Regions from separate parts of the Homo sapiens genome. Here all the other regions are linked to region 2. Evidence: fine-mapped expression QTL. A gene starts in region 2. Each other region holds a variant in brackets. All regions are shown on one strand. Distances are between the middles of the regions.

Region 1 (8,180 bases), 430 kb before region 2:
TGAAACCGGGAGGTGGAGGTTGCACTGAGCCGAGATTGCACCATCACACTCCAGCCCGGGCAACAAGAGGGAAACTCCATCTCAAAAAAAAAAAAAAAAAAAACGACCACTAAATCTGCTAGTGTTTTCCTTTTTTTTTTTGAGACGGAGTCTTGCTCTGTCACCCAGGCTGGAGTGCAGTGGCTCGATCTCAGCTCACTGCAAGCTCCACCTCCTGGGTTCACACCATTCCCCTGCCTCAGCCACCCGAGTAGCTGGGACTACAGGCGCCCGCTACCACGCCCAGCTAATTTTTTGTATTTTTTAGTAGAGACGGGGTTTCACCATGTTAGCCAGGATGATTTCGATCTCCTGATCTCATGATCTGCTCGCCTCGGCCTCCCAAAGTGCTGGGATTACAGGCGTGAGCCACCGTGCCCGGCCTCTGCTAGCATTTTCTAAGTGTATCCTATAATAGCAATCTTACTTAGAGTACTCAAAATGATAAATTCTAGCAACAAGTCTCCTTCAGAGTGCAGACATTGGAAAGGAGCAGGATATGGGCAGGGTGGGGGCGGGGGGGCACCCGAGGACTGAAATCCATGGCCAAACCCTGAAACCCTCACATCTGTATCTTGTTGCTCAATGTCCAGGCCAGGCAAATGGATCTAACTGGCCAATGGAAAAGCTGGGATTAGAAGGCAATGGAACCTGGTCATAGTCAGAGACAAAGCACCAACAGGTATGAGGATCACGTCCACCTTCCCGTACTGTCAGTTAATAACCTGGCTGGGGTTGAAACTGACCTTCTGAGGCTCTGGCCACACTGGAGGTCAGGAATGCTTGCACTACAGCCAGGCCTTTTCTGCCTTCCCTCCCCTCCTGTCTGGTTCCTACTGAGGACTCAGCTAAATGAACATGTTTTTCTCCATTGGTCTGGATGGTTCCAGAGACAATCAGCTGCAGTGCTACAGTGGAAAGTTGGAAGGAAGAGAGTGAGTTTGGGAGGATGTGGCCCAAGCCTGGACTGACTTCATTTCTAGCCTATGAAGATGATTAAACAGCGACTTAGGGTCTAAAGACCAGTACCTTCCAGGTAGCTCTTTAGGTCTGGAATTCTCAGCTCTGCATTCCCTCTCTCAAGGTCTCATCTCTTCCGGAAGAGTTAGTTGGTTATCTGATGGGATAGAAAATCTGAATATTGGGCCAGGTGCTGGTGGCTCACGCCTGTAATCCCAGCACTTTGGGAGGCTGAGGCCCCTGAGGTCGGGAGTTCGAGACCAGCCTGACCAACATGGAGAAACCCTATCTCTACTAAAAATACAAAATTAGCCGGGCATGGTGGTGCATGCCTGTAATCCCAGCTACTCGGGAGGCTGAGGCAGGAGAATCGCTTGAACCCAGGAGGCGGAGGTTGCAGTGAGCAGAAGTCGTGCCATTGCACTTCAGCGTAGGCAACAAGAGCGAAAGACTCCATCTCAAAAAAAAAAAAAAAAAAAGCAAAAAGGTCTTATAGGGAAAAGAGAGATCAGACTGTTAGTGTGTCTATGTAGAAAGGGAAGATATAAGAAATTTCATTTTGACCTTACCCTGAACAATTGCTTTGCCCTGAGATGCTGTTAATCTGTAACTTTGCCCCAACCTTAAGCTCACAAAAACCTGTGTTGTATGAAATCAAGGTTTAAGGGATCTAGGGCTGTGCAGAATGTGCCTTGTTAACAAAATGTTTACAAGCAGTATGCTTGGTAAAAGTCATCGCCATTCTCTAGTCTCGATAAACCAGGGGCACAATGCACTGCGGAAAGCCGCAGAGACCTCTGCCCTGGAAGGTTGGGTATTGTCCAAGGTTTCTCCCCATGTGATAGTCTGAAATATGGCCTCGTGGGATGAGAAAGATCTGACCATCCCCCAGCCCGACACTCGTAAAGGGTCTGTGCTGAGGTGGATTAGTAAAAGAGGAAAGCCTCTTATAGTTGAGATAGAGGAAGGCCACTGTCTCCTGCCTTTTCCCTGGGAACTGAATGTCTCGGTATAAAACCCGATGGTACATTTGTTCAATTCTGAGATAGGAGAAAAACCACCCTATGGCGGGAAGCGAGACATGTTGGCAGCAATGCTGCTTTGTTATTCTTTACTCCACTGAGATGTTTGGGCAGAGGGAAACATCAATCTAGCCTACTTGCACATCCAGGCATAGTACCTCCCTTTGAACTTAATTATGACACAGATTCTTCTGCTCACATGTTTTGTTGCTGACCTTCTCCCTATTATCACCCTGCTCTCCTACCACATTCTTCTTGCTGAGATAGTGAAAATAATAATCAATAAAAACTGAGGGAACTCAGAGACCGGTGCCGGTGCAGGTCTTTGGTATGCTGAGCGCCGGTCCCCTGGGCTCACTTTTCTTTCTCTATACTTTGACTCTGTGTCTTACTTTTCTCAGTCTCTCGTCCCACCCAACTAGAAATACCCACAGGTGTGGAGGGACTGGCCACCCCTTCAAGTCTGAATGTTGTTTGCCTGGGAGTGAAATTTCCTGTAACTCCTTGAGGAGCTTTAAAAAAAAAAATACCGGTTCTTAGATTTCTCCCTTTCTCCCCCTACTCTGGGGTGTGCTTGGGCATTGAGCCTTTAAAATATCCCCAGGTGATTTGAATGAATAGCCCAGGTTAAGAACCACTGCCCTAAAAAGAGCAGCAGGTTTGTGCTATTTCTTTTTTTTTTTTTTGAGACCGAGTCTCACTCTGTCATCCAGGCTGGAGTGCAGTGGTGCAATCTCAGCTCACTGGAACCTCTGCCTTCCGGGTTCAAGATCCTCCTGCCTCAGCTTCCCGAATAGCTGGGATTTACAGGCGCCCCCAAGCCCGGCTAATTTTTGTATTTTTAGTACAGACGAGGTTTCACCATGTTGGCCTGGCGGGTCTGAAACTCCTGACCTCAAGTGATCCACCCGCCTCGGCCCCAAAGTGCTGAGATTACAGGCATGAGCCACCGCACCCTGTCAGGTTTGTGCTTTTTGGACAGGTGGGGCTGTGTGTTGTACCTGTCTGCTAACAAATGTTCATACACCTGGGCATGGTGGCTCATAACTGTAATCCTGGCACTTTGGGAGGTTGAGTGGGAGGATCGCTTGAGGCCAGGAGTTTTAGACCAGCCTGAGCAACATAGTAAGACCTCGTCTCTACAAAAAATTTTAAAAAGCCCACTGTGGTGGTGTGTACCTGTAGTCCTAGCTACTCAGCAGGCTGAGGCAGGAGTGTTATTTGAGCCAAGGAGGTCGAGGGTGCAATGAATCCTAGTCTCACCACTGCACACTAGCCTGGGTGGCAGAGTGAGACCCTGTTTTAATAAAAAAAAAAGAAAGAAGTTCAGTCTGGGTGTGCTGGCTCACGCCTGTAATCCCAGCACTTTGGGAGGCTGATGTAGGAAGATCACTGGAGCCCAGGAGTTCAAGACCAGCCTGAGCAACATGGCGAAATCCTGTCTCTACTAAAAGTACAAAAAATTTGGTGGGTGTGGTGGCATGCACTTGTAGTTCCAGCTACTGGGGAGGCTGAGGTGGGAGGATCACCTAAGCCTGGGAGGTCAAGGCTGTGGTGAGCCATGATCGCGCCACTGCACTCCAGCCCAAGCAATAGAGTGAGACCCTGTCTCAAGAAAAAAAAAAAGTTCGTACAGGTGCAGACTCAGTCTGAGACTGGTTCTAACAGGTAAAATACCTCCAGTGGCAAGGCAGCAAGGAAGGAGCCTTGTGTTTCTTTCTGCCTTTAGCCACTGGAGGCAGAAAAGAACTCGGCAATTTGTGAATGACCACAGACTGGAAAAAAAGGGGAGTGTTCTCCAGGCTTTCAAAGTTTAGTGTTTAGAATCACCAGAAGAGCTTGTTAAAACTCAGATTTTTTGGCCCTACCCCAGAGATTCTGATGCAGTTGGTCTAGGCTAGGGCATACATTTGCACCTCTCCTAGGTGATGCTGATGATGGTGGTCTGCAGTCACATCTTGAGCAGCAGTGCTGTCTATGCCAATGGATAGTGTGCGCAAAGGCCTAAGGGTGTGAGAGTCCGGCTTATCCTGGGATAAGTGCTTAGTGAGACGAGAGTTAACACGACTGCTGGAGGTTAAGGTGGAAGCTAAATTATGAAGAGCCTAACATCCATGCTGAGTTTAGACTTGACCCTGAGTCCACTGAGAAGCCACCTAATTAGGTATACAAATACTTAGGGTCCTTGGGTGGTGGGGTGGCAGAGGCAAGATCTCAAGCCATCTGCTCCTGAGGGTTCTGGGATGGTAGAAGTGATGATGGTGACTGCACCACAGTTGTGGACACCAGAGGGGGCGGGAGGCTGGAAAGGGGTTGTAAACAAGGATAGTGGACACTTCTGCACTTTCCCTAAGGCAAGGCCGTCCCTAGAGGGGTCTGTTCAAGGTCTCATGATGTCTGATGCTTGATCTGTGAATTTGGAGGGTGTTTTTGGATGAGATCAATGTTCCTTTTTTTGTTTGCTTTGTTTGTTGTTGAGATAGGGTCTCGATCTTTCTCCCAGGCTGGGGTACAGTGGCGCCATCTCAGATCACTGCAGCTTCTGCCTCCTGGGCTCAAGTGATCCTCCCACCCTCAGCCTCTGGAGTAGCTGGGACTTCGGGCACGTGCCACCATGCCCAGCTGTGAAACATTCTTCACAGAAAATTATCTTCTGGGTCTTGAGCCTGCTGGCCCACAGTGTAGATTTTGGACTTGCCCACATCCGTAACTGCAAAAGCTAATTCCTTATGATAAATCTTTCTGAATACATACAAATCCTCTCGGTTCAGTTTCTCTGGAGAACACTAACTAATACAATGTTGGACAGGAAGTTTCTGCTCT[CAG/G]TCTTTAAGAACAGGTGAATCTTATTCCTCATGGCATGGGGGCCACTGGAGTATGTTTCTTTTCTTTTTGGGGGGAGTGGGAGAGGAGGAACAGGGTCTCACTCTGTTGCCCAGGCTGGAGTGCAGTGTGTGATCATCGCTTACTGCAGCCTCGACTTCCAGGCTCAAGCGATCCTCTCACCTCAGCCTCCAAAGTAGGTGGGGCTGCAGGTGCGTGCCACTGTGCCAGGCTGATTTTTTAAGTAATTTATTATTTTTCAGATAGGGGCCTTACTGTGTCACCCAGGCTGTAGTGCACGATCAAGGCTCACTGCAGCCTCAATATCCCTGGGCTGAGGTGATTCTACCACCTTAGCCTCCGGAGTAGCTGGGACTACAGGTGTGCCACCAGGCCCAGCTCATTTTTGTGTTTTTTGTAGAGACAGGGTCTTGCCATGTTGCCTAAGCTGGTCTCAAACTCCTGTGCTCAAGCAATCCGTCCACCTCAGTCTCCCAAAGTGTTGGGATTACACATGTGAGCTACTGAGCCCAGCCTAATTTACTTTTTGTGGAGATCAGGTCTCACTATGTTGCCCTAGCTGATCTCGAACTCCTGGGTTCAAGTGATCCTCCACTTTAGCCTCCCTGGACTGTTTTCAGACAGCTATCCTGAAGTTCCCCAAAGAGTAACACATGGCTCTGGGGTTGAGAGGAGTTGAATGATGGAGTCCCTTTAAGACATTACCGTTTCTTCTGTTCTCCTGGGAGAGTAATGCTGGGGGCATGCCCAGTAAAGCCATTAGGCAGGAGGAGCCATTGAAACACCTCATCTGTCATCAACTATGTCTATCTAGAGAAGAAGAAGGTTTAAACCATGAGGGGGGAGGGTATCCAGAGTGCCTGGCCTTGGAAATTCTTCCCAGGATGTGGAGATATACGGTGAGTGGATAGACTAGGTCTTCTTTGTCTACATCCAAAAGATGTGTCCTTTTTTCATTTGTTTGTTTTCTTCTACTCTTTATTTTAATCTTTTTTAAATCTTGTGCTTGTATTGTGGAACCAAATCTTGTGGTTGTGTTGAGGGAAAACTGAAATAAACTTACAAATTCAGGCTGTGCACACACATGTTTATAGTGGCTTTATTCCTAATTGCCAAAACTTGGAAGCAACCAAAATGTTCTTTAGTAGGTAAATGGATAAACTGTGGTACATCCACACAACGGAGTATAACTCAGTGCTAAAAAGAAATCAGCTATCAAGTCATGAAAAGACATGGAAGACGGGCTGGGTGCCGTGACTCACGCCTGTAATCCCAGCATTTTGGGAGGCCGAGGCAGGTGGATCACCTGAGGCCAGGAGTTCATCACCAGCCTGGCCAACATGGCAAAACTCCGTCTCTACTAGAAATACAAAAATTAGTTGGGTGTGGTTGCGCACGCCTGTAATCCCAGCTACTCAGGAGGCTGAGGTAGGAGAATCGCTTGAACCTGAGAGGCGGAGGTTGCAGTGAGCAAAGATTGTGCCACTGCACTCTAGCCTCTGAGACAGAGAGAGACTCCATCTCAAAAAAAAAAAAAAAAATTGGTTTCCATGGTTGGGAAGGGGGTTGGAGAAGAATAGGGAGCACACAAAGGACTTTTAGGGCAGTGGAAATACTCCATATACCTTTATGGTAGGCACATATCATATATTTGTCCAAACCCATAGGATGTACATCACCAAGATTCAACCCTCAGGTACTCTATGGAGTTTGGGTGAGAATGATGTGTCAATATAGGTTCATTCACTGTAGCAAATGTACCATTCTGGTGGAGGATGTTGATAATGGGAGAGGCTGTGTGAGTGAGGGCACAGGTATGTGGGAAAGCTCTGCACCTTCCTCGCAATTTTGCTGTTAACTTAAAACTGCCTTTTGAAATTTTTTCGCAGACAGGGTCTTACTTTGTGACCCAGGCTGAAGTGCAGTGGTGCAAACACAGCTCACCATAGCCTCAACCTACCAGGCTCAAGCAATCCTCCCACCTCAGCCTCCCGAGTAGCTGAGACTATAGGCACAGGCCATCATGCCTGGCTAATTTTTGTATTTTTTGTAGAGATGGGGTTTCACCATGTTAGCCAAGCTGGTCTCAAACTCCTGGGCTCAAGTGATCCTCCCACCTCGGCCTCCCAAAGTGTTGAGATTACAGGTGTGAGCCACCGTGCCTGGCCAAAACTGCCCTTAAAAATAGTCTTAACACAGCGAGAGCCCCATCTCTACAAAAAGTTTAAAAAAAAAAAAAAAAAAAATTAGCCAGACGTGGTGTCGCACACCTGTAGTCCCAGCCAGTTGGAGAACTGAGGTGGGAGGGTCACTGGAGACGGGGAGTTTGAGGCCACAGTGAGCCGTGATTGCATCACTGCACTCCAGCCTGGGTGACAGAGTGAGACCCTGACTCAAAAGAGGAAAAAAAAGCTCTCGAGAATATTTCGAACTAATTTAGTAGCCATGTGTGAGTACTCTACCGTAGTTTGCTAAGTTGGTGAATTCCCACTAAGGTTTATTGGAAAACTCTTAGGACTGCAAGCTAGTGGGGGACTGGGATAGTCACTTCCTTTCTCTGGCACGCGTCTCCCACTTGTAAAATGGGAGGAGTGGTGTAGCAGGCAGGACCGACTCCCAGTTCTGAGGTTGCCTCCATTTCAAAAAAACTGATTCTAGAAGGAGGATCAGATACATGTTTGTTCCTGTATAATTTTGCCAAGCATAGGTCCTGATACCCAACAGCAATCTCTCAGGGACCCAAGACCAAAGCAACTTTCTTGCTTCCTCCTTCACATGACTGGAAATGGATATGCTGCTCAGGCAAGGCAGGGGTGAGAGTCTTTTATACACCGTCAAACACACACACACACATGACTCTTCCAAATGTCAGTTTATCTTGGGATTGTGTAGAGAGTGAAATGTTTTTTTTTTATCTTTACTTAAATATAGAGCATCTGAAGATTGAAAGTCAAGCTGTCAAAAACTTAACATTTGCACTAGGCTGGCATACAACTGAGACTATAACCTAAATTTAAATTTTTGTGTTAAAAAAAAAACTCACTGTTCTGGTTGACTTTAATAGAAAAAATATAAATAAAACATAAAATTAAGAAAATTGGGTGCAAAAAATTTTAGTTGTGCCAGACAAGGTGGCGTGCACTTGCAGTCTCAATTACACAGGATGTTGAAGTGCAAGGATTGCTTGAGCCCAGGAGTTCAAGGCCAGCCTGGGCAACATAGCAAGATCCTTGTCTTAAAAAAAAAAAGAACAAGAAAAGAAAAAAGGAAAGGAAAGAAGGAAGGAAGGAAAGAAAGAATTAAGACTTACCTATG
Region 2 (8,180 bases):
TTCGAGACCAGCCTGAGCAATATAACGAGACACAGTCTCTACTAAAAATTTTTTAAAAGAGGCCAGGCGTGATGGCTCACATCCGTAATCCTGGCACTTTGGGAGGCCAAGTCGGGCAGATCTCTTGAGGTCAGGAGTCCGAGACCAGCCTGGCCAACATGGCAAAACCCTGTCTCTACTAAAAATACAAAATATATATATATATATTACCCAGTGGTGGTGGCGCACACCTGAGGTTGTGACGCTGAGCCAGGACAATCGCTTGAACCCAGGGAGGTGAAGTTTGCAGTGGGTGGAGATCGCGGCACTGCACTTCAGCCTGGGCAACAGAGTAAGGCTCTGTCTCAAAAATAAATAAATAAAATAAATGAATAAAAATTTTTAAAAAAAAAAATAATTGCCAGGCCCGGTGGTTCACGCCTGTAATCCCAGCACTTTGGGAGTCCAAGGCGGGTGGATCGCCTGAGGTCAGGAGTTCGAGACCAGCCTGGCCAGCATGGTGAAACCCCATCTCTACTAAAAATATAAAAATTAGACAGGTGTGGTGGCAGGCGCCTGTAATCCCAGCTACTTGGGAAGCTGAGGCAAGAGAAGCGCTTGACCCTGGGAGGCAGAGGTTGTAGTGAGCCAAGACAGCGCCATTGCACTCCAGCCTGGGCAACAGAGCAAGACTCCGTCTCCAAATAAATAAATTAATTAATTAAAATAAAATAAAGTAAAATAATTTTGGCTAGGTGCAGTGACTCACGCCTGTAATCCCAGCACTTTGGGAGGCCAAGACAGGTGGATCACTTGAGGTCAGGAGTTCGAGACCAGCCTGGCCAATATGGTAAAACCCTGTCTCTACTAAAAATACAAAAATTAGCCAGGTATGGTGGCACATGTCTGTAATCCCAGCTACTCAGGAGTCTGAGGCAGGACAATCACTTGAACCCGGGAAGTGGAGGTTGCAGTGAGCTGAGATCACCCACTGCACTCCAGCCTGGGCAGCGGAGCAAGACTCTGTCTCAAAATAAATAAATAAATAAATATTTAAAAAAATTATCTGATCTCCCTTGTCTGATTGTAGGTCATAAGACCCCCATAAGAAGGGGTCCTGCCCATACCCTGGAGGAAGGAATGCTACAGAGAGAGGCCAAGAAAAATCTGAACAGATAGGCATTGCTGGGTTTCCCTACCCCATGCTTCAATTATGTCTACTCAATGAAGTCTCCATAAAAAGCCCAAGAAGATGGGGTAGGGAGAGCTTCTCAATATCTGAACACATGGAGGTTCCTGGAGGGTGGCATGCCCCTTCTCATACCTCACCCTGTGCATCTCTTCCTCTTGTATCCTCTGTAATATTCTTAATAATAAACTAGTAATAAACCTAAATAAGTGTTTTCTTGAGTTCCGTGAGCTGCTCTAGCAAGTTAACCAACCCAGAGGAGGGAGTTATGGGATTCCCAATTTATAGGTGGTTAGTCAGAAGCCGGGGTAAAACAATCTAGGACTTGTGATTGGCATCAGAAGTGAGGGCAGTCTTATGGGATCTGACACTATCCCCAGGTAAATAGTTTCAGAATCGAACTGTTAGATGCTCAGCTATTGCTTGATGCAGAACTGATGGGCCCACACATTTATTTGGTCACAGAAGTCCTCAGTGTTGACTGTAGTGGTGTGAGAGCAGAGGAAAAAGTTTGTGTTTTTTCTCTTACTCCTAATAGGATCTGGACTAGTAAGGGCAAATCTCTTCAGAACTCATTTTATAAGTTCTATCCATAAGTATTTCCATATTTATTAACTTTGTTATTATCTTTGTGAAAGTTGCAGATACCAGGTCAAAATCACTTTTTGTCAAACCCAAACAAACTAGAGAGCCTGAGGGAGAAAGCTCATGCTTGCAAGTCTGAGATAAAGATCGGTCTCAAGAAGGAACTAAAATAACCACCCAAGAAATTCTTTCTTTAGGAATGCAGTAATTCAGATAAGATAAGATAAGATAATCTTTTTTCCTTTTTTTTTTTTTTTTTTTTTTGAGACAGGGTTCTTGCTCTGTCACCCAGGCTGGAGTGTAGTGGTGCAAACACCACTCACCACAGCCTCCATCTCCTGGGCTCAAGCAATTCCCCTGCCTCAACCTCCCGACACACCTGACTATTTAAAAAGCTTTTTCTGTAAAGACAGCCATGTTGCTCAGGCTGGTCTCCAACTCTTGGCCTCAAGCGATCCTCCTGCCTAAGCCTCCTAAGTAGCTGAGATAACAGGCATGAGGCAGGTTGCCAGGCCTGATAAGATGCTCTCCATAACACCTGCCCAGTAATGGCATCTTCAACAATGGCCAACTCTGGCTTTCAGTCTGCAAAACCAATAAACTCTGTTTTCACGCAGCTTATCTGCACTTACTTTGCCAATAAAAGTTTCCTTTTACCCTCCCCTCTTCCATGCATATATGGCTTGCCAGGCCTGTGCACCTCGGGCTATAACGCTCATTTCTCATTCCCAAATAAATTCAACACATTTGGAGTGTTTTGTTGTTGTTGTTATTGTTAACATCTTAAAGGCCATTAGGGGCCCTAAAAACATCAAAGCTCACTTTAGCTAAAAGGCTCAATCTCACCTAACATTTTCTAATGCTGCAAACAGATTTAAGTTTTTAACCGCTGCCCCTGCCTCCACTCCTTTCAAATAGATGTGTGCAAATTAATTTGCAGCCAATAGGAATTTAGCCCAGAATGTGGTAGTATCATCCTCAGTGGAACCGACATTGTCCTTCTGGGTTTCCAAAGGCTTCTGCCTTCCTTTAAGAAACACTTGTCGCGCACCTACCAATAGCCAGACCCTAAATGCAGTCGAAAAATAAGGCCCTGAAAGGGGCACCCTCTAAATGGCAGAGGCAAGCCAGTAAACAACCAACTGGAATTCAAAGTGACAAGAGCCACTTGGAAATATGACAAAGTGCCAAGTGAAGGGGTGTTCACTTAATTCGGCCTGCGTGCGGGACGGCTGGGGCGCTTTGGAGAGTGGGAGTGATCTGAAAATGCTTTCCTGAGCTTGATTTAAAAGCAGGAGTCCAGGAATTTCCCCTAAGGCTGGAAGCACTTTCCGACAGAACCTCCCCATCTACGCAGCAAGGCTGGCAGAGCCCAGGGCCTGACCGCTGGCTTGGGAACCTCCGCTACGGGATGACCAGGCGCCGCGACGCGGCCGGGCCCAAGTCGCCCCCTCAGCCCGGCTCTGAGCACCCCCTCCTCTTTGTCCCCTCACCCCGTTCCCTCCTTCCACGGCCACCGATGGAGGGAAAGACTCCGCCCAGCTCTGGGAGCGAAACAGGGGCACCGATCTGGGCGCAAAATAGGATCCGTGCCACCCCCGAATACCAGTGGGCCGAGATTCGAGGCCCGAAAGGCCTGGGGAGGCGGGGCGGCGCCCCTCCCTGCCCGCGGCCTCGGCGAGCCCTGCGCGGCGGGGCGGGGACCACCGTGGGGTCACCCGGGCCCGACGCAGGAGGACGGCGCCCCCGCCCCGCCTCCCGGGTCAGCGCGGACGCACGCCGCGGGCGCCCCATCCTCGCCGCGGCCCCTCTGAGCGCCCGGCGGCGCCCTCCACCTCCGGCTCCCACCCACTCCAGGCGGGCGGGCGGGGAGAGCGCGGGGGCAGGGCAGGCAGGCCCGGGAAGCCCCGAGGGAGCTGCCCCCGGCCGGCCTCCAGGCGCGGGGACACCCAGGGGCGAGCGCGCACTGCACAGCCGGGACCTCACGCTTTACCTGGTGCGCTGGAGGAGCAGGTGGGAGCCCGGGTCGGGCGGGCTCGGTGTCGGCCCTGCCTCACCTGGGCGGAAGTGAGAGGCCCAGGGTGACCGCGCCTCACCTGGCAGGCCCTCCCCTCGCCCCGACTCTCCCCGCCCGGGGCGGGGCACCGGGGTGGCGCAGGGGGCGGGGGAGGGAGCCCGGGGCCGCGGGAGGCGGGCTCCAAGGAGGGAGGACGGTTGCCCTGGCTGTTTACGTGCAGGTGAATTCCTACCGGGCGCGGGATGGCCAAGGGCCTGGGAAAAGTGGGCTGTGGGGGCGGGGTGGCGGATCAGACCGCGCGTGGTGGGGACAGCCGCCACTGACGGGGAGGGAGATCCGGACAGACCGGTGTGGTTGGAGGCCTGCGTGTAGAGCGAGACCCAAGATCAAGGAAATTGAGGAGGATATCGATGAAAGCGTTGGGTCAATCCGCTTAACACTTTGTCTTTTTGCCCCTTTCCTTTCCTGTTCTCTCATCCCTCCTTTGTTTTCTCTATTCGCTGACGCAAAATAAAATATTCTAAAACGTGTAAATGTGGGAGTCATTATTTTCTTCTCATTTAGTGGAAGAAAGAAATCCAGCAGTATTTGCCTGCTGTATGCTAGGTGCTAGCTTATGCAATGTCTCATTTACTCTCTGAAGAAACTAATGAGGAAACCGTGCACCCTGTAGGTTGACTGGCCCAAAGTTTGGAACACAGGCAAGGCATTTTGACTCTAACTACAGTGATGATTTCACTATACGTTAATTTTCTTTTATTTGTGATGTCACACCTTCGAGAAAAATATGTCCCGATAGCCTTCTTCCACTCCCTTTAATAACTTTAGGCTTTTGATGATAGGGGTTTTACTTTGCCTGATACAGTCCACACATTAACGATAAAGAGAATCAATCTTCAGGTATCTTATTCATAGAGTACATACAGTAATTGTTAAACACTGTGATTGATTGTGGGAAGATGTGTAAAATGGTATCCCTGTCCCCAGGAAGATGAGGAATAGATACAAAACAACTACAACATAAAGACTTTCAGGCGGGGCGCGGTGGCTCACGCTTGTAATCCCAGTACTTTGGAAGGCCGAGGCGGGTGGATCACCCGAGGTCAGGAGTTCGAGACCAGCCTGACCAATATGATGAAACCCCGTCTCTACTACAAATACAAAAATTAGCCGGGTGTGGTGGATGCGTAGTCCCCTCTACGCAGGAGGCTGAGGCAGGAGAATCACTTGAACCCAGGAGGCAGAGGTTGCAGTGAGCCAAGATCCTGCCACTGCACTCCAGCCTGGGTGACAGAGAGAGACCCCGCCTCAAAAACAACAACAACAACAACAACAACAATTAGCCCGGAGTGGTGCCGTGAGCTTGTAGTCCCAGCTACTCTGTGGGGCTGAAGTCGGAGGATCACTTGAGCCCAGGGGTTCAAGACCAGCCTGGGCGACAGAGCAAGACTCCATCTCAAATAAATAAATAAATAAATAAAATTAAGATCATGCACTTGGTGCTTTGTAGTTTGCTTCCTTGTTTTAAAAGAAATGTAACACTTGTTAGTCATGGTAAGAAGACACACAATATCAGCATGGTTTCTGCTTTTTAGGAACTAACAAACTACTGAGGGAAATAACAGGCAAATTGCCAGATGGAAGCCAGACCTCAGAAAATGAAGAGATCTATTATGTTTTTTGAAAGCATGGGTTAGAACTTAAACAGGTCTTAACCAGAGTCTGAGATTAATTTAGGTAAAATGGAGAAGGAAAGGCTTTCCAAGTCGGGGGCAAAATAAAGTTGGAGATTGAGTGGGAAAAGGGAGAGGATTGAAAAACTACCTATCAGGTACTATACTTATTGCCTGGGTGATGAAATAATCTGTATATCAAACCCCATGGCCTACAATTTGTCTATGTAACAAACCTGGTTTTTTTGTTGTTGTTGTTGTTTTGAGACAGAGTCTCGCTCTGTTGCCCAGGCTGGAGTGCAGTGGCACAGTCAGCTCACTGCAACCTCTGCCTCCCTGTTCAAGCCATTCTCCTGCCTCAGCCTCCTGAGTAGCTGGGATTACAGGTGCCAGCCACCACACCCGGCTAATTTTTTGTATTTTTAGTAGACATGGGGTTTCACCACGTTGGCCAGGCTGGTCTCAAACTCCTGACCTCGTGATCCACCCGCCTCAGCCTCCAAAAGTGCTGGGATTACAGGCGTGAGCCACTGCACCTGGCCTACAAACCTGTGCATGTAGCTCTGAACCTATAATAAAAATTAAATAGGAAAAAAAAGAAAGGTGGAGACCAATTATCTCAAAGAATCACCTTGCAAACATTGGTCTCTTCTTTTTAAATTTATTTTTATTTATTTATTTTTTAAATTGAAATTGAATCTCACTATGTTACCTAGGCTGGCCTCAAACTCCTGGACTCAAGCAATCCTTCCACCTTAATATCCTTCTTGAAAAGCTGAGATTATAGGCACCACCACTACACCTGGCTATTGCACCTCTTCTTTATTTATTTATTGTAGAGAGATGGTCTCACTATGTTGCCCAAGCTACTCTCAAACTCCTGGCCTCAAGCCATCCTCCTGCCTCAGCCTCCCAAAGTGCTGGGATTACAGGCATGAGCCACCATGCCTGGCCTCCTCTTATTTTATTTTGTATTTATTTAATTAATTAATTTTTTTTGAGACAAGGTCTCACTCTGTCACCCAGGCTGGTGCACAGTGGTGCAATCATGGCAGCCTCAAATTCCTAGGCTCAAGCGATCCTCCCACTGCAGCCTCCCGAGTAGCTGGGACTATAGGCATGCACCATCATGACTGGCTTATTTATTTATTTAGACAGAGTCTCGCTGTTGTTGGCCCTACCCTGGAGTGCAACTGGAACCTCCGCCTCCCAGGTTCCAGCAATTCTCCTGCCTCAGCCTCCTGAGTAGCTGAGATTACAGGCGCCCGCCACCACACCTGGCTAATTTTTGTATTTTTAGTAGAAATGGGTTTCACCATGTTGGCCAGGCTAGTCTCAAACTCCTAACCTCAGGTGATCCACCCACCTCGGCCACCCAAAGTGCTGGGATAACAGGCATGAGCCACCACACCCAGCCTGCCTCTTCTTACTTTAATATTAAATGATGTTGTGAACATATTCCCCTATTTTCAAAAAGCTATGTAACTTTAAGTTGACCATGAAACCAAGTCCAAACTCCTTTTCTTGCTATTCAAGGCCCTTCAAACTCTCCCCTGCTTGCTGACTCTTTTCTTTTCTTTTTTTTTTTTTTTGAGACAAAGTCTCGCATTCCAGGCTGGAGTGCTATGGCGTGATCTCAGCTCACTGCAACCTCCACCTCCCGGGGTCAAGCGATTCTCCTGCCTCAGCCTCCTGAGTAGCTGGGATTACAGGCGCCTGCCACCACACCTGGCTAATTTTTGTATTTTTAGTAGAGACGGGGTTTCACCATGTTGGCCAGGCTGGTCTCAGACTCCTGACCTCAGGTAATCTGCCTGCCTTGGCCTCCCCAAAGTGCTGGGATTACAGGCGTGAGCCACTGTGCCCGGCCCCTTCTTGCTGACTCTTCAACCTAATCTCCACTTCACCTCTGGAGGATCTTACTCTGAGCAAATTTATCTATTCCATATCCATGGAACACCAATGGCTTTTCTGTTCGTTACCTACCCACTTTCCCCTGCCTGGAATGTTCTGTAAGCCCTACCCTCCTTCTAGGGCTAGACTCAAGTCTAACCCCTTCTGAAAAGCTGCCTCCCTGGCCACCCCAGGAAACATCATCTCTATCAGTTTTAACCTGATTTTCTCTACATTTCTGTGCTGTTAATTAATTTTACCTCACCAACCACCCTTCTTCCTTTGTGTTGTTAATTAACTAATTAATTTTTTCAGGCCAGGTGTAGTGACTCATGAATGTAATCCCAGCACTTTGGGAGGCCGAGGCGGGTATATCACCGGAGGTCAGGAGTTCAAGACCAGCCTGATCAACGTGGGGAAAACCCACTAAAAATACAATAATAACCCAGGCGTGGTGGCACACACCTGTAGTCCCAGCTACTCAGGAGGCTGAGGCAGGAGAATTGCTTGAACCCAAGAGGCGGAGGTTGCAGTGAGCCGAGATCATGCCACTGCACTCCTGCCTGGGCAACAGAGCAAGACTCCATCTCAAAAAAAAAAAAGAAAAATAAATAAATAATTGAGACAGGGTCCCACTCTGTTGTCCAGGCTGGAGAGCAGTGGTGAGATCATAACTCACTGCAGCCTTGAACTCCTGGGCCCAAGCCATTCCCCCATGTTAGCCTCCTGAGAAGCTGGGACTACAAACATGCACCACCATGCCCAGCTAATTTTTTAAATTTTTTATATTTAGAGACAAGGCCTCTCTATGTTGTCCAGACTGGTCTCAAACTCCTGGGCTCAA
Region 3 (8,180 bases), 410 kb before region 2:
GGGGGCTAACTCTGCAGCCTTCCCACTGTCCTTATCTACATAGCTGGCTATTTCAAAAGCAAAGTATAATAATGCCCTCCAAAGAATAATTATCCCAAGAACTTAGGGTGTTAAATGTGTCATAGGAGAAGGATGGTCAGTTTATGGTTTATCTACCTTGGGGATAAGCATTCTGCTACCCAGAATGTTTCTGTGCTGCCTTTCCGCTCCTCTTTTGCCTATCACCAGTTTAACAGGTTGTTTGGGAATAACATGCCTTATTAGGCATTCTAGCAAGATGCAGGAAGGGGGTAAATGTGCAGCTGCTCAATGTGGTCCAAAAGTAAATGCCAAATGACTAAAGGGTTTTATGGCAGGTCACTGGGCCCAATTAACAGGTGATAAGATCTAAGATCTGCACAGGTAAAAGCAAGCTTGTATTTAATGTATAGTTTAGCTTTCTGGAAAGAGACAGATTCCTTCTTATTTCTCCTTTCAAAGACCTTTATCTCTCTCTCTCTCTTTTCTTTTTTTTTTTTTTGAGATGGATTGCCCAGGCTGGAGTGTAGTGGCATCATCTGGGATCATGGCAACCTCTGCCTCCCAGATTTAAGGGATTTTCATGTCTCAGCCTCCCAAGTAGCTGGGATCACAGGCATGTGCCACCATGCCCGGCTAATTTTTGTGTTTTTTAGTAAAGACGGGTTTTGCCATGTTGACCAGGCTGGTCTTGCACTCAGGTGATCCACCCACCTCAGGCTCCCAAAGTGTTGGGATTACAGACGTGAGCCACTATGCCCAGCCTCGAAGACCTTTATTTCTTTAGGAAAACAAAGCAGTTCAACAAGATCTGTTCATAAACAAATGACTATGATAAAACCAAAGAAGAAAAAAAAACTGTAGTATCAATTTGAAATACTTCTCAGAGATCTTCAAAATTTATAAAAAATTAAATTCCAATTAAAAAAATCAGTGAAGTTAAAAATAATTACTCAGGCTGGGCACAGTGGCATACACCTATAATCCCAGCACTTTAGATGGCCGAGGCAGGTGGATCGCCTGAGCTCAGTAGTTTGAGACCAGCCTGGGCAACATGGCGAAACCCCGTCTCTACCAAAAATACAAAAATTAGCCAGGCGTGGTGGCATGCGCCTGTAGTCCTAGCTACTGAGGCAGGAGAATTGCTTGAACCCGGGGAGGCAGAGGTTGCAGTGAGCTGAGATCAAGCCATTGCACTCCAGCCTGGGCGACAAGAGCGAAACTCCCTCTCAAAAAATAAAATAAAGAATGCACTGATTCGAGGCTTGCACAGCACAAACCTTTCTGCCTCAGCCCCCTGGTGCCTGTTATTTTCAAGAAGAAAGCCAAATCTTTTTTTTGTTCTAGCTCAGAACAATACTTCCAAGGACACCTTCTAAAGAGTGGCACTGCTCCTTATGCTGTGTTGCTGAAAGAAGACACTCTAAAAATCTGTGAGCATCTGCTTCTGTCACAGAATCCAAAGGAGACTGCACTTCTTGTGACTCCGCCATTGTAAAAGAACTCTTCTCCCACTATTCCTGTGTGAGAATTTCCTATAAGATTCAAATGAAATGAGCATACATGCACACATCCAGGTTTGACCCAAAGTAAAGCAAAGCAAAGCACTTAAAAGAAATCTCACCTAGGTTTAATTTTTTTAAAAAAGTACATTAAAAAAGAAGATATACCTTTGCAAATACAGTCTTGACATAAATTGGCAGGTCTCCATGGGGACTTCCATAACCCCCTACAATACTAAACCCCAAGCCTTCAGAGCCTTTCTCCAAAGTAATAATCTTAGGTGGAGGTGTTCTGAAAACACAATGCATGCTGTTTAATTCGAGAATAGATATTGAGAGGGAATTTCATTTAATTGGAAGAATACAGATTTGAGAGAGACTTTCATACTGCAAAACTATGAAGTTTGGTTTATCAGATCAAACTCTCAGAAAGCAATCTAGAAAGTTATTTTCTAACTTCTCATGTCATGCTAATTAATCACCAATATTCTTGATGTTTTAGAGGTTTCTCTTTCATAAAACTCACTGATTGCTAATTAAAGATAAAGTCATGATGCTGAAATTGTCAAAGCACTCTTCTATATGCTTAGTTTTTAACTCTTTTTTTTTTCTTTTTTTGAGACGGAGCTGGGACTATGGGTGTGTGCCATACCTGGCTAATTTTTGTATTTTTAGTAGAGATGGGGTTTCACCATGTTGGCCAGGCTGATCTCGAACTCCTGACCTCAAGTGATCTGCCTGCCTCTACCTCCCAAAGTGCTGGGATTACAGGCATGAGCCACTGCACCCGGCCAGTTTTTAACTTTTAAACTTACTGCTGACAGCTGAAGGAAGCTGTCGTCACATCCTTGAAGCATGTGCATGGAGACAGAGGTAGCGTGTCTCCTAGTGTGGTGGGAGACTGCCAGTCTTCACATAAACTCTTGTCCATAACAGATAACATCAGCTCGCAGCTCAGGAAACTGCTGCTCCTTTTCTTTTACCTTTTTTTTTTCTTTTGAGACAGAGTCTTGCTCTGTCACCCAGGCTGGAGTGCAGTGGCACAATCTTGGCTCACTGCAACCTCCACCTCCCGGATTCAAGCAATTCTCCTGCCTTAGCCTCCTAGTAGCTGGGATTACACACGTGTACTACCATGCCCAGCTAAGTTTTGTATTTTTAGTAGAGATGAGGTTTCGCCATGTTGACCAGGCTGGTCTCGAACTCCTGACCTCAGGTGATCCACCTGACGCCTCCCAAAGTGCTGGGATTCCAGGCGTGAGCTGCCGCACTCAGACTGCTGCTCCTTTTCTGCCGGAACGCCCTGGCCACTTCCACCTAAGGCAGGAACTCATTCTCCAAACTCACTTCCAATGTGAGGCTCTCCTGCCTCCCTTGGGAGGATGGGTCCCACAGCCTTTTCTGTGCTTCCCCTACATTGAGTCCAAATTTCCATTTTGGCACTGACTGTATCATATTGTAATTACTTAGCCATCCATTTCCTCTACCAGACTATAACCTCTTTGTCTTAGTCATCTGAGACTTCCCAGTACCATGTGTGGTGCTTGTCAGAAACTCAGGATCATGACTGTGTAGATGAGAACTGAAATCCAGGAGAGAAGAGAGAAACCAAGGTGAAACAAAATGGAGAAAGAAAATCTGTTTCAAATGTAAAATTTAGCTTTTCAAAGCTTCATCCAGTGTGGAAGTCTTCTCTCTTAGAAACAACATGGCTAAAAATTAAATTACCTATGTGGGCTCCCAGTAATTTAATCTTAATCTAAGTTTAGGTGATGCCAATTTCTTATTCCCAAATGCTATTGCTCAAAAGGCAGAAACCCAGACCCTGTCTTATTTATGATAGGTAGTTCATATTCGTGTACTGGCAGCATCCTTTGTTTTGTGGCAACATGCATGTCTGAGAGGCGAAGTCATCTCATATAAACTCAGCCATTCATGTACTTAGAGAAATTTGCAAAATGGGGACACAAGCAATCTTTGAATATGTTGTTCTATTTAACTAGAATATTCTTCCCTCTCTCCCTCCTCAATTTTGCTGGGTTTATTTATTTATTTTTTTGAGACGGAGTCTCGCTCTGTCACCCAGGCTGCAGTGCAGTGGCGCTATCTCGGCTCACTGCAAGCTCTGCCTCCTGGGTTTATGCCATTCTCCTGCCTCAGCCTCCCGAGTAGCTGGGACTACAGGCGCCTGCCACCACTCCTGGCTAATTTTTTTGTATTTTTAGTAGAGACGGGGTTTTTCACCATGTTAGCCAGGGTGGTCTCGATCTCCTGACCTCATGATCTGCCCGCCTCAGCCTCCCAAAGTGCTGGGATTACAGGCGTGAGCCACCGCCTGGCCAATTTTGCTGGGTTTATTAAAGGGTTTTCAGCTGGTTCACATTGTTACCAGTTGTTTGTTGATGTACTTACTGTTTGTTTACAGCAGACATCCATAGTTACTGCTGACGATCTATGCTATATAAATTGTTAACTGATTTCTTTTTCTTGTTGTTGTTGTTTTGTTTTTTGAGACAGAGTTCCACTCTTGTTGCCCAGGCTGGAGTGCAATGGCGTGATCTTGGCTCACCGCAACCTCTGCCTCCCGGGTTCAAGTGATTCTCCTGCCTCAGCCTCCCGAGTAGCTGGGATTACAGGCATGTGCCACCACGTCTGGCTAATTTTGTATTTTTAGTAGAGATGGGGTTTCTCCATGGTCAGGCTGGTCTTGAACTCCTGACCTCAGGCGATCTGCCCACCTCGGCCTCCCGAAGTGCTGGGATTACAGGCGTAAGCCACCACGCCCGGCCTTGTTAACTGTTTTTAACTGTTTTGTTTGTCTTTACATTTTTTT[A/TA]TAAACACAGGGTCTGACCATGTTGCCCAGGCCTTGGCCTCTCAAAGTGCTGGGATTACAGGAGTGAGCCACCACACTTAACTATTTTGAATGCCACCTGTTTATTCCAATTCTTTTTTTTTTTTTTTTTTTTTTTTCTTGAGACAGGGTCTTGTTCTGTCTCCTAGGCTGGAGTACAGTGGCACAACTGCAGCCCGTTGCAGCCTCAAACTCCTGGGTTCAAGTGATCCTCCTGCCTCAGCCTCCTTAGTAGCTGAGATTACAAGCATGCACCACTATGCTGGATCCAGTTCTCTTAAAACTGGCTCCAGTTCTCTTAAGCTTAAGCATCAGCTTCTCCAACTACACTCCTTAACTGAGTTATGCCCCATATCCATGGTTTCACAGGACCCTCTCTCAATGAATTTAGCTCTCCTACAGTTATCTTTTATAACTATGGATTTATGGGTCTGTTTTTCCACTTCTCTGGCAGCTCTCTGGGGACTGGGGCAATATCTTTACTTACATTTCTAAGTTTGAGTCCTCAGGACCTAGCACTTGTATCTAAGTGTCTGGCCTTAGAATGGTGCTCAATAAATATCTGTTGAGATACTGATGAATTGCCCCCTATAGGTGAATGATTATGACTCATGAATAAGGCTCTACTTTTCCCCACTTTGTGGCCTTACAAGCACTCTCAGTAACAGCTCACCAGCTGGATACAAATTCGATTCATGTTTCTTCTTTCAAACACAGCCCCCATTTCCAAAGATACTGGAATGAGAAGCTAGATGCCCAAAGCCATTGCTTTAGAGCTACCTCCTGTGGCCATCAAATCATTAAAGACCCTTATAATTGTGCCTATCTATACTCAGGGACATGTTTTCAGGGGAAGAGGGAGGAGTGTGGCTCTACTCCTCAACTGGCAACATCAGATGGAATTTGCCTCTATTGATCTCACAATATCATAACATTTTCAACCAATTAGTTTAAATTTACTTTCATATAGAAGGCTAGTAAAAAAAAAAAAAAATCCCAGTGTTAGCAGTGGTGGGATTATGAGTGATTTTTAAATTCCTTTAAGCTTGTGGTTCCCAGCCTGCCAGAGGCATGGAATTATAGCAAAGGAATTAAGATTACAAGGGGATCTCTGTATTTCCATAGCCACATCAAAGGATGCTAAAGGTACGCTGTACTTCCTATAAAGGTCCTGATTTTTTTTTTTTTTTAAGGAAAAGGCCACCGTAATTTGAAAAATGTTATATTTCTATGTGTTGTCATATGTTCATGGCATGCATGTATTAACTTTTATAATGAGAAAAAGGTAGAATGAGCTTAATTTAATATTCTTTCCTCAAGAAAAATAAACTCAAAGATGTCATTTAGGTGGGGAACTACCAGGAAAAAATTGGGACGGGCTATGACCATGAGATCCTTCAAATGAACCATCCAGATTTGTCAACAAACATTTATTGAGCACCTACTAGTGACCAGGCACTGCTGGTACCTGAGAGGAATAGCTTTAGGCAGCATTTCTCAAAGTGTAGATCCTTTGCCCATCTGTAGCAGAATCACTCTGGGAAACTTGTTAACATCAGGTTTCTGGAATCCACCACAGACCACCTAGTCAGAATTTTGGGATGTGGCCTGGGAATTCGCATCTTTAAACATGCTCCCTAGATTACTCCTCTTTTTTTTTTTTTTTTTTTGAGATGGAGTTTCCCTCTTGTTGCCCAGGCTGGAGTGCAGTAGTGCAATCTTGGCTCACTGCAACTTCCACCTCCCGGGTTCAAGCAATTCTCCTGCCTCAGCCTCCCAAGTAGCTGGGATTACAGGTGCCCGCTACTACGCCTGGCTAATTTTTTGTATTTTTAATAGAGACAGGGTTTCATCATGTTGGCCAGGCTGGTCTCGAACTCCTGACCTCAGGCGATCCACCCGTCTCGGCCTCCCAAAACGCAGGGATTACAGGCATGAGCCACTGAGCCCGGCCCTTAGATTACTCTTATGCATATTCTAGTTTGAGAAACCCTGCTTTAATGAACAACTTTAACTGCGATGACTGGTTTTAATGAAACATGTCAGCAAGTATAACAACAAGATTTCATCTCAGAACAAGATTTTAGCCTAGAAGTTCAGGAAACGTGGTTCCTTGCACAATAAAGCAGCGTGCACCTGGGCTATACATCCGTGGTTTCTTAGGGAAGCAGGCATAGGCACTGTGTCAAAGTGACCAGATGCAGTGTGTGTGCAGGCCCTGCAACAATGGTCTTTCAAGAACTCATGTGGTGGAATTAAGCCTTGTGAGAAATAAGGATTCCCTAGAATTTAGAAAAAGTCACGGGCGCTTTGGCCACTTCTCCTTTAGAGTGCACTTGAGTGTCTGGAAAAGTTCTTCCGAGCTTTGCCCACATGCATAATAGGCCCTCTGCATCTGAAATACTCACTCTGTGTCTTCTGGATGGTGTTCAGCAGTGGGCGAACCAAGGTGGTAGCCTGTAGACATGTTTTCAAGCTGAGCTGCTATGGCGCTTATATTGGTATCTGCTACAACCTGGGGAAAAAGTGAAAAAAAGGTATTTCATTATAAAGAAGGGGAGAATTAGAGAAACCATGCTGTATCCAAGGGTCAGTTCTCAATCCTAATCTTATTCAATTTATCTAGACCATTTGACACAAGGACTATTCTCTCAAACTTTTTTTTTTTTTTTTTTTTAAAGACAGTGTCTCACTCTGTTGCTCAGGTTGGAGTGCAGTGACATGATTTTGGCTCTCTGTAGCCTTGACCTCCCAGGCTCAAGCAGTCCTCCCACCTCAGCCTCCCACGTAGCTGGGACCACAGGCATGCACCACCAGGCCCTGCTAATTTTTTTTTTGAGACAGTTTCACTCTTGTCACCCAGGCTGGAGTGCAATGGCGCGATCTCAGCTCACTGCAAACTCTGCCTCCCGGGTTCAAATGATTCTCCTGCCTGAGCCTCCTGAGTAACTGGGATTACAGGCACCCACCACCATGCCTGGCTAATTTTTTTTTTTTTTTTTAGTCGGAGTCTCGCTCTGTCACCAGGCTGGAGTGCAGTGGCACGATCTCGGCTCACTACAACCTCTGCTTCCTGGGTTCAAGTGATTCTCCTGCCTCAGCCTCCCGAGTAGCTGGGACTACAGGCGAGTGCCAGTACGCCCAGCTAATTTTTATATTTTCAGTAGAGGCGGGGTTTCACCATGTTGGCCAGGCTGGTCTTGAACTCCTGACCTCAGGTGATCCGCCCACCTTGGCCTCCCAAAGTGCTGGGATTACAGGCGTGAGCCACCAAGCCCAGCCCTGGCTAATTTTTTTGTATTTGTAGAGGGAGTTTTTGCCATGTTGCTCAGGCTGGTCTCCAACATCTGAGCTCAAGTGATCCGCCCGTCTCGATATCCCAAAGTGTTGGGATTATAGATAGGCATGTGCTCCTGTGCCCGGCCTTCAACTATTTTCTTCATTTCTTCGTTTGGCTTCCATGACACCACAATTCACTAGTTTATTTTCCACACTTCTGGCCATTCCTTCTATTATTTAAACCTCTAACTGAGGGCCACAGGGCTTAGTCCTTGAGCTTCTTATCTTTTCCATTAAACATATTATCCCATCCCATTGTCTCCCATTCCATCCCATCCCATATCCCATCCCATCCATCTCATGAATGTAAATGCCATCTAAGTGATGATAATCCCTGAATCTGTACCTCTAGCTCCAATGCTTACCTAACACCAGATCCATATATCCAGTCACCCACTGGATGTCACAACTGGATATATGGATCCAGTTGTCACTGGGTCCATAGACATCTATGGGACGTCTCCAGGAAT

Evidence for each region.
Region 1: its variant is fine-mapped to the expression of PATJ in lung (TOPMed, PIP 0.95).
Region 3: its variant is fine-mapped to the expression of PATJ in aorta (GTEx, PIP 0.95).

The regions. Positions count from the first base shown.
Region 1 is chr1:62,165,278-62,173,457 of GRCh38, reverse strand. No RefSeq gene overlaps it. Among named protein-coding and RNA genes, the nearest start is that of L1TD1, 25 kb to the left of the region's middle. The variant CAG/G (reference allele first, on the strand shown) is at 4,845.
Region 2 is chr1:61,738,122-61,746,301 of GRCh38, reverse strand. It overlaps PATJ (PATJ crumbs cell polarity complex component), which reads right to left and starts at 3,822. Exons shown (of 44, transcript NM_001350145.3): 1 at 3,747-3,822. It overlaps PATJ-DT (PATJ divergent transcript), which reads left to right and starts at 3,518. Exons shown (of 1, transcript NR_185910.1): 1 at 3,518-4,304. RefSeq lists a silencer at 3,361-4,070.
Region 3 is chr1:62,146,990-62,155,169 of GRCh38, reverse strand. PATJ (PATJ crumbs cell polarity complex component) reads right to left here. Exons shown (of 44, transcript NM_001350145.3): 42 at 6,780-6,886; 43 at 1,689-1,812. Among named protein-coding and RNA genes, the nearest start is that of L1TD1, 44 kb to the left of the region's middle. The variant A/TA (reference allele first, on the strand shown) is at 4,354.